Linked DNA regions of Homo sapiens. The protein of the gene in region 1 purifies or fractionates together with the protein of each later gene. This does not show direct contact. Each region holds a gene or a part of one and is shown in the gene's direction. Other genes may lie near its edges.

Region 1 (3,653 bases):
AGGTGGCCTCAAGCAGCAGCCATTCTTCTCTTTTATCTTCAGCGTGCCTACAAATACAGTGTTATCACCGTCCATGTGTGCCATGATGGAAAAATGGTTGGGCATTTTTCCCGTGGGTGTCCCGGTAAAGTATTTGGACTCAATTCTGGTGTTTGATTAGTGCTTTTTAAAGTAACAGAATCGTCCCTATTTGAGAGGAATACCATAAATCTATTTGTAGTGACCTTTCCTTGAAATCACATTTTTTTTAGTTCGTTCTTTCACTAATGGAAATGGGGGAGAAGCTATGGGGGACAGTAGAAAGAATGGTAAAAGAAGCAGAGATGTGCTTGGTCTGTTTTTAACCGTTTGAGACCATTAATCATTTTCTCTGGGTTTAAGATGGAGGCTTAAAAGTGGCAGAAGTCTTGTAAGGGTTTAGCTGCTATTCAGTGCTGGTAGAATTCTCTTCCCTCCTAAGCCTGTGCACTTTTTAAAATGCACTTTTAAATAGGCTTAATTTGAAGAATGTGTCCATCTCTCTCTCTCTCTCTTTTTTTTTTTTAAAAGATGTACCCTTAAGTAAAAAACAGCTGATTGTCTGGCCCCCATAAGTAACAGTTATTCTGTTTTTTCTTTAAGACATCTTTCTTATTACCTTATCGCATTCATAAGGATTTGGGTTGCCGTATAGAAAAAAAGAAATTAAAGTTCTATGGGTTTCTAAAATATGTATGAGTAAATTTTAGGTGAGAATTTGCATCTTTGATTTAATTATACGTGAAGGTGATGACTTAGTTTCTGAAAGTCAAGAGGGTAGTCTTTACAAGCCAAAAAAGGCATGCTTCCATAAAATTATACTATTCTTAAAGGCCTTCACAGCTAGGGTCCTATATTAGATGCAATAGATGTAACACTGACATACATAGTCTCCTTAAAGTCTGGGATCCAATTTTATTGCTGAATTTACTTTTGAAACTAAATGTCAGGGTTTGGTAATGTTATTTTGGACAATAAGACATAGTTAGATTATAAAATGGCGTATACTCCCAGATTTATTGGGAAGGTGGGCAAAGATCCCCCAGTTTCCAAAAGTTATGATTATGGTCATCTAAGCCACAGGATCTGTTTTCTTATGTAGTTGAGAAGCTAACATAGTACTCCATTAAAAGTGGAGGTTGCCACACTGCGTGACCAAACACTGAGTTCAGCTGCCCTGTCTAGATATTCTGGATTACTACAGCAGCCTTCTAGCCTATGGTTGGAACCCATCTGATACTTTTCCCATTCTTGCTTAGAACAATGGTGATATTTCTCTGCTTAAAATCCTCTTGTGGCTCTTTTTTGCCCATTAATAAAATTCAAACTCCATTTATCCTTAATCTCATATACAAAACCTTCAAGATGTGCTCCTTACCTAACTCTCTTTTTTCCCCTTTATCTTTCATATTTTTCATTTTTTTTCTTACCTAACCCTTTAGCCTTATCTCTCTTCTTGGATGATCTTTTGTTCTACCAATACCCAGCTTCTGGAATGCTAGTGTTTGTTTACTCAGTCCTCCATTTCCTCTTCCTGGAATTCTAGCCTCTCTTCCTTCCCCTAATCTAGTATACTCCTACTGGTCCTTCAGAACTCAGTTTAGGTTATAATTCTCCAAAAAATTACAATTAGGTTCTCTCTCTGGATCCCATCCCTCAAAAAACAAAAAACAAAAAACCTTTAAGACTGGGCTGATTGCTTCTCTTATGTGCTGTCATAATATCTGTTACAGCTCTTAACTACACTGGAGAGAGTACTTTCATTAGCCTATTGTAAATTTTGTTGACAGCAGTCCACAGTAACCTCATAACTACACACACACACACACACACACACACACACACACACATTCTTTCTCTCTCTTAAAGGCCTTCTTCGTAGGCCTTTATCAGTCAAGTGCCCAAACTTTCTCAATTCATGGCACCCTTATTATCGCAGTAATTTTTTTCACAGCATCCCTAGGTCAAAAGAAACACCTAACAGTTTAATTTTTTTGTTTTTTGTTTTTTGAGACGGAGTCTCGCTCTTTCACCCGTGCTGGAGTGCAGTGGCGCGATTTCGGCTCACTGCCGCCTCCACCTCCCAGGTTCAAGCAATTCTCCTGCCTCAGCCTCCCGAGTAGCTGGGATTACAGGCACGCGGCACCATGCCTGGCTAATTTTTTGTATTTTTAGTAGAGACGGGGTTTCACCATGCTGGCCAGGCTGGTCTCGAACTCCTGACCTCGTGAGCCATGTGCCTCAGCCTCCCAAAGTGCTGGGATTACAGGCGTCAGCAACCATGCCTGGCCAGTTTAATTTATTAAGTAATTAGGTCTGAACAACTTAATAAGTATGTATCTCCTAACAAGTCAGTAGCTGTGTGAAAAGATAAAATACATAAACTAAAATCAGTAACTTTCATTCTTAACTGCTATCGTGTATGTACCATAGTTTTCTCGACTAATGTCCTGTTTGAACATTTAAGTAATATCTAATATTTTGCAATTACAAATGATGTTACAGTGAAAAACTTTGTGTACATGTATCTTTGTATTGTTGGAGAGATACATCTTCAGGATAAATGCATATGTAGAGTTGTTAGGTACTGTCAAACTCCTCATCCTGTGGGGTTATACTATTTTGCATTCCTACCAGCAGTGTATGAGAGTAGAGTGCTTATTTCCTCACAGCCTCACCAGCAGTGTTTTGTCAGCTTTTGAATTTGTGCTGATCTAATAGGTAAGAAATTGTATCTCAGTGTATTTTCCATTTGTACTTCTATTACAAGTGAATTGAACATGTTTTCATATGTTTAAGGGTCATTTTAATATTTATTTTTATTGTTCATATTATTTGCTCACTTTCTTTTCTTTTCTTTTTCCTTTTTGAGATGGAGTTTCGCTCTGTCGCCCAGGCTGGAGTGCAGTGGCACGATCTCTGCTCACTGCAACCTCTGCCTCCCAGGTTCAAGCGATTCTCCTGCCTCAGCCTCCTGAGTAGCTGGGATTACAGGTGCACGCCACCACGCCTAGCACGTTTTTGTATGTGTGTATGTATTTATTTATTTATTTTGAGATGGGGTCTCACTCTGCCAGGCTGGAGTACAGTGGCGCCATCTCAGCTCACTGCAACCTCTGCCTCCTAGGTTCAAGCGATTTTCCTGCCTCAGCCTCCCGAGTAGCTGGGACTACAGGCGCGTGCCACCACGCCTGGCTAATTTTTTGTACTTTTAGTAGAGATGGGGTTTCACCGTGTTAGCCAGGATGGTCTCGATCTCCTGACCTCGTGATCCACCTGCCTCGGCCTCCAAAAGTGTTGGGATTACAGGCATGAGCCACCGTGCCTGACCCTAATTTTGTATTTTTAGTAGAGATGGGGTTTCACCATGTTGGTCAGGCTGGTCTCAAACTCCTGACCTCGTGATCCGTCCACCTCAGCCTCCCCAAGTGCTAGGATTACAGGCGTGAGCCACCATGCCGAGCTTTCTTTTACTTTTTTTCTTTTTTTTGAGACAGAGTCTTGCTGGACCCTCCAGGCTGGAGTGCAGCGGTGCAATGGTGCGATCACAGCTCACTGCAGCCTCAGCCTCCAAGACTCAAGTGATCTTCCCACCTCAGCCTCCTGAGTAGCTGGAATTATAGGTGCATGCCACC
Region 2 (3,653 bases), on another chromosome or scaffold:
TTCCACATTTGAGCCCCAGCACCTCATGAAGCTGGCGCAGCAGGGTGAAGCTGGGGTTGGAGGGACTCAAGTGGTCTCGGAGCCAGTGGGTGATGCCACAGAGACCCCAAAGCCCTCGGCCCCTGCCCTGCACTTTCCCCGGTTGGAGGGACTCACGCAGTCTGGGAGCCAGTGGGGTGATGCCACAGAGACCCCAAAGCCCTCGGCCCCTGCCCTGCACTTTCCCCTGAGCTGTGGGCCGGCTGTGACCAGGAAGTCTCCAGGGTGGTGGACATTCATGTGTCAAGTGAAACAGTCTCGGCACACTTGGGCATGCTCTTCTGTGTCTGTCGTGGTTTGTCACTCACATTCCTGGTTCCCCCATAGTACTGAGATGATGAGGAACGTGGAGCTGGCCCCGGAAGTGGATGTCGGCACCCTGGAGCCATTGCTTTCTCCACACGTGGTCTCTGAGCTGCTTGACACGTACATGTCCACGCTCACTGTGAGTAGGGCTGGCCTGCGTGCCACAGACCACCGTGCTGGTTATATGAGTAACTAGGGCTTGGCAGCAGGCAGGAGGCAGGGGGGAAATGCCTTAGCGTTGACTTCCTAGGATGCATTGCTCAGTTGCCCGGGCTCTGCTTCCAGGCCTTGACAGGTCAGTTTGCTAGAAGAGGAGAATGGCCCCTTCTCTGGGCCTGGATCTGAAGCTTGTCCTCTGCTGGAGACGTGAGCCTGTGCCCTACTCGGCAGGCTGGCCAGGGCCCAGAACGTCTGAACCGTGTGTGGCAGCACCTGCCAGGCTCTCGGCTCTGAGTCCCATGGTTGGGGGGGTCCGTCAAGGACCAAAGGGCGAGTCCATTTGCAGCCTGGTGACCACCAGGTGGTCTCAGAGTGAGAAGAGGAGGTCAGCAGGGTCTGCTTCTTAGACAAGGGTGCGTCCACCTAGCAAGGCAGCATTATGACCAGAAGCCGAGGTGTCCTCAGGAGCTGGGGAAGGAGCGCTGTCTTCTCTTGGGACGTGAGCTGCTGTGGTTGCTGAGTCTGGGCATGGGAACAGGCCTGACCGGACCTGGTCGGCCTCATTCTCTGTGCACCTGGGATTCAGCGGCCTTGTCCTCCAGCATGAGGTGCAGCCAAAAGGGCATCTAGTTTCTTCTCCCTCTTTATCTGTACCAAGGGTTCCAGTTAAACCCCTGCGGGCTGCTGTGGTCACTGCCTCCCATGGGGGTGGCTCCTGGGTCCCTGCTCTGGAGTCCTCATTTGAGAAAGAGGACGCTGGTGCCCTGTGTCTGGTTTGTGGAGCTTGTGCATGCAACTGACCAGGTAATTGGCATGACCCTCAGGCACCTGCTCTTCTCTCTTCTCTTCTCCATGATGCTGAACTTTCTTTAGTCAAACATCATCGCCTGGCTGCGGAAAGCGCTGGAGACAGACAAGAAAGACTGGGTCAAAGAGACAGAGCCAGAAGCCGACCAGGACGGGTACTACCAGACCACACTCCCTGCCATTGTCTTCCAGGTACCACCTGCAGGGGACTGGCACAGTTCCGTTTCCTAGGTGGATAGTGGGACCTGTAGGTTTTACAAAGTGACACAGATACCTGGGATCTTCATCCACAGAGTGTAGTAAAAATATTGAGAGCCCTGCCTGGTGCATCTAAGTCCTCTCCTCTCTCTGTCTCTTACTCTCTGGAGCTGCAGAAACCTGGGATGATACTTACCAAATAGTTTTGCCCAAGGTCACTTTACTTTTCTGACCTGGTCTTTATGGGTTTGGACTACAGCCTAATTGTATGTTATTTATGTGCGACTTTCAAATGTGAGTTTGTTTGGTCGATATCCAGGATTTGTCCTAAAAAATGGCACATGATTGAGTTTAAACAGGTGGATTTTGGGAGCGTCCATTATTTTTTTTGAGACGGAGTCTCACTCTGTTGCCCAGGCTGGAGTGCGGTAGCACAATCTTGGCTTACTGCAATCTCTACCTCCTGGGTCAAGGCGTCCATTAGCTTTTAAAGTTGCTTTCCTGTTCATTGGTTAAGGTTCTAAGTATTAGACCGACCTGCATTTTTACCACGGATTCACTTTCCAACGCCCAAGCCTCACTAGGTGTTAGAACCGGTGTGTTCTTACCACGGATTCACTTTCCAGTGTCCGACCGCCCTGTGTCCCGTTTTTCCTGCTCTTTTTTTCTTTTGGCACATCATGTGTTTTAATTTGAGTGGCATTGCTGAGGGATGGAGCCCCGTTGTGTTAGAATCCTCACTCAGGACTCTAGTTAGGCAGGAGTGAGGGCTGGCGGGTGACATTTCTCTCTGAATGATACCGTTAGTTATTGACAGGCTAGTCCAAACCCTTTCCTTTGTTTGGAAACAGATGCCGTGAGAAACTGTGAGGAGAGCTCTGTCCCCTTGCCCTTCCTCTGCCTGGGTCAGCTCCTGGCAGGGCCTGGCACACCCCAGGTCCAGATTCTTAGGAACTCTGCATCATGACAGTCATGGGGCCAGGGAGGGTGAGTCAGGTGCCTGAGGGGCGCCATCCCGGGTGGGGCCTCACTCCACACATTAAAACTCCAGTCACGTAGTGTGAGGACAGACATGGCCCCCGTGGGAGAAACCAGTTTGCCAGGAATTAAGAAATGAGTCACTTGGTACTTTCCCAGGTGAGAAAGTTGTTTTTTTTTTTTTTAAACTAACTTTGTTATTTTTCACGTGGTTTCATTTTTTTTTTCTCTGAATTTGGACTATCCTAAATGCCAGTTAGCAGATGGAGGTTTCATATAACAGCAAACCTGCACTCTTAGTATACTCCTGTAAGATTATACCAGAATTCATAAGTTCTCTGATTTTTAGATGTTTGAACAGAATCTTCAAGTTGCTGCTCAGATAAGTGAAGATTTGAAAACAAAGGTACTAGTTTTATGTCTTCAGCAGATGAATTCTTTCCTAAGCAGGTATGTCTTTCTGCCAGTGTGCTAATGTACACATTGAATGTTTTTAAAAATTAGAAGCAAAAATTTTTTGATCCTACTATGCCTGTTACTAAGAAGAAATTAAGCCGGTAGATTCCCCACGTGTCACTCCTGTGTTCTTCAAAAGCAAAGGGAGGGAGCGGAGCTTCTGGATCATCTTCCCCTTGAGTGGACCACACACCCCCTTGGGCTCCCAGAGCTGATGTGTTGTGACGTCCTTAGCGATGCGCCGGATGACACCAACTCTGTTGGAGTCAGGCTCCTCCTGTTGCCTGTTCTGAACTTCCTTGGGGTGGGGGTGGCGACTCCTGCCGCAGTGCCTACTTCGTAGTGGGGAGGGCGTCCTCGGCTGAGCCGGCCCTCCTCAGAAGGGCTCCAGGCAGCCATGACCTGGCACGCCACCCTCCCCATGAGTTGTTGATAATTTTCAAACCTATACAGATGTGGAAAAGAGTTTAAAAAACTGTGTTCACCCATCGTGCAGTCCAGAAGCCATCCCCTCCAAAGCCCCCTTGCCTAATCTGTTCTCCCCTGCCCATTCCACTCTCTCTGCTGAAGTACCTTCAGGCAAACCCCGGGCGCTGTGGCATGGTATTTGCGACCCTCTCTGAAGCCACTGCAGTGCCATCAAGTCAGAGACACATGCACGGTGACTCCGTGGGGTCATCCGATGCCAAGTCTGCGTTTGGGTTGTATCT

The links.
Region 2: the proteins of RALA (region 1) and EXOC3 purify together in Homo sapiens (affinity purification with western blotting; one study listed by BioGRID). This does not show direct contact.

What each region holds. Positions count from the first base shown.
Region 1 is NC_000007.14:39,626,546-39,630,198, forward strand, and holds part of RALA (ras-related protein Ral-A precursor), read left to right. Parts: intron 1-3,653. UniProt on the Homo sapiens protein: Multifunctional GTPase involved in a variety of cellular processes including gene expression, cell migration, cell proliferation, oncogenic transformation and membrane trafficking.
Region 2 is NC_000005.10:456,523-460,175, forward strand, and holds part of EXOC3 (exocyst complex component 3), read left to right. Parts: intron 1-366; coding exon 367-484; intron 485-1,377; coding exon 1,378-1,503; intron 1,504-2,836; coding exon 2,837-2,937; intron 2,938-3,653. UniProt on the Homo sapiens protein: Component of the exocyst complex involved in the docking of exocytic vesicles with fusion sites on the plasma membrane.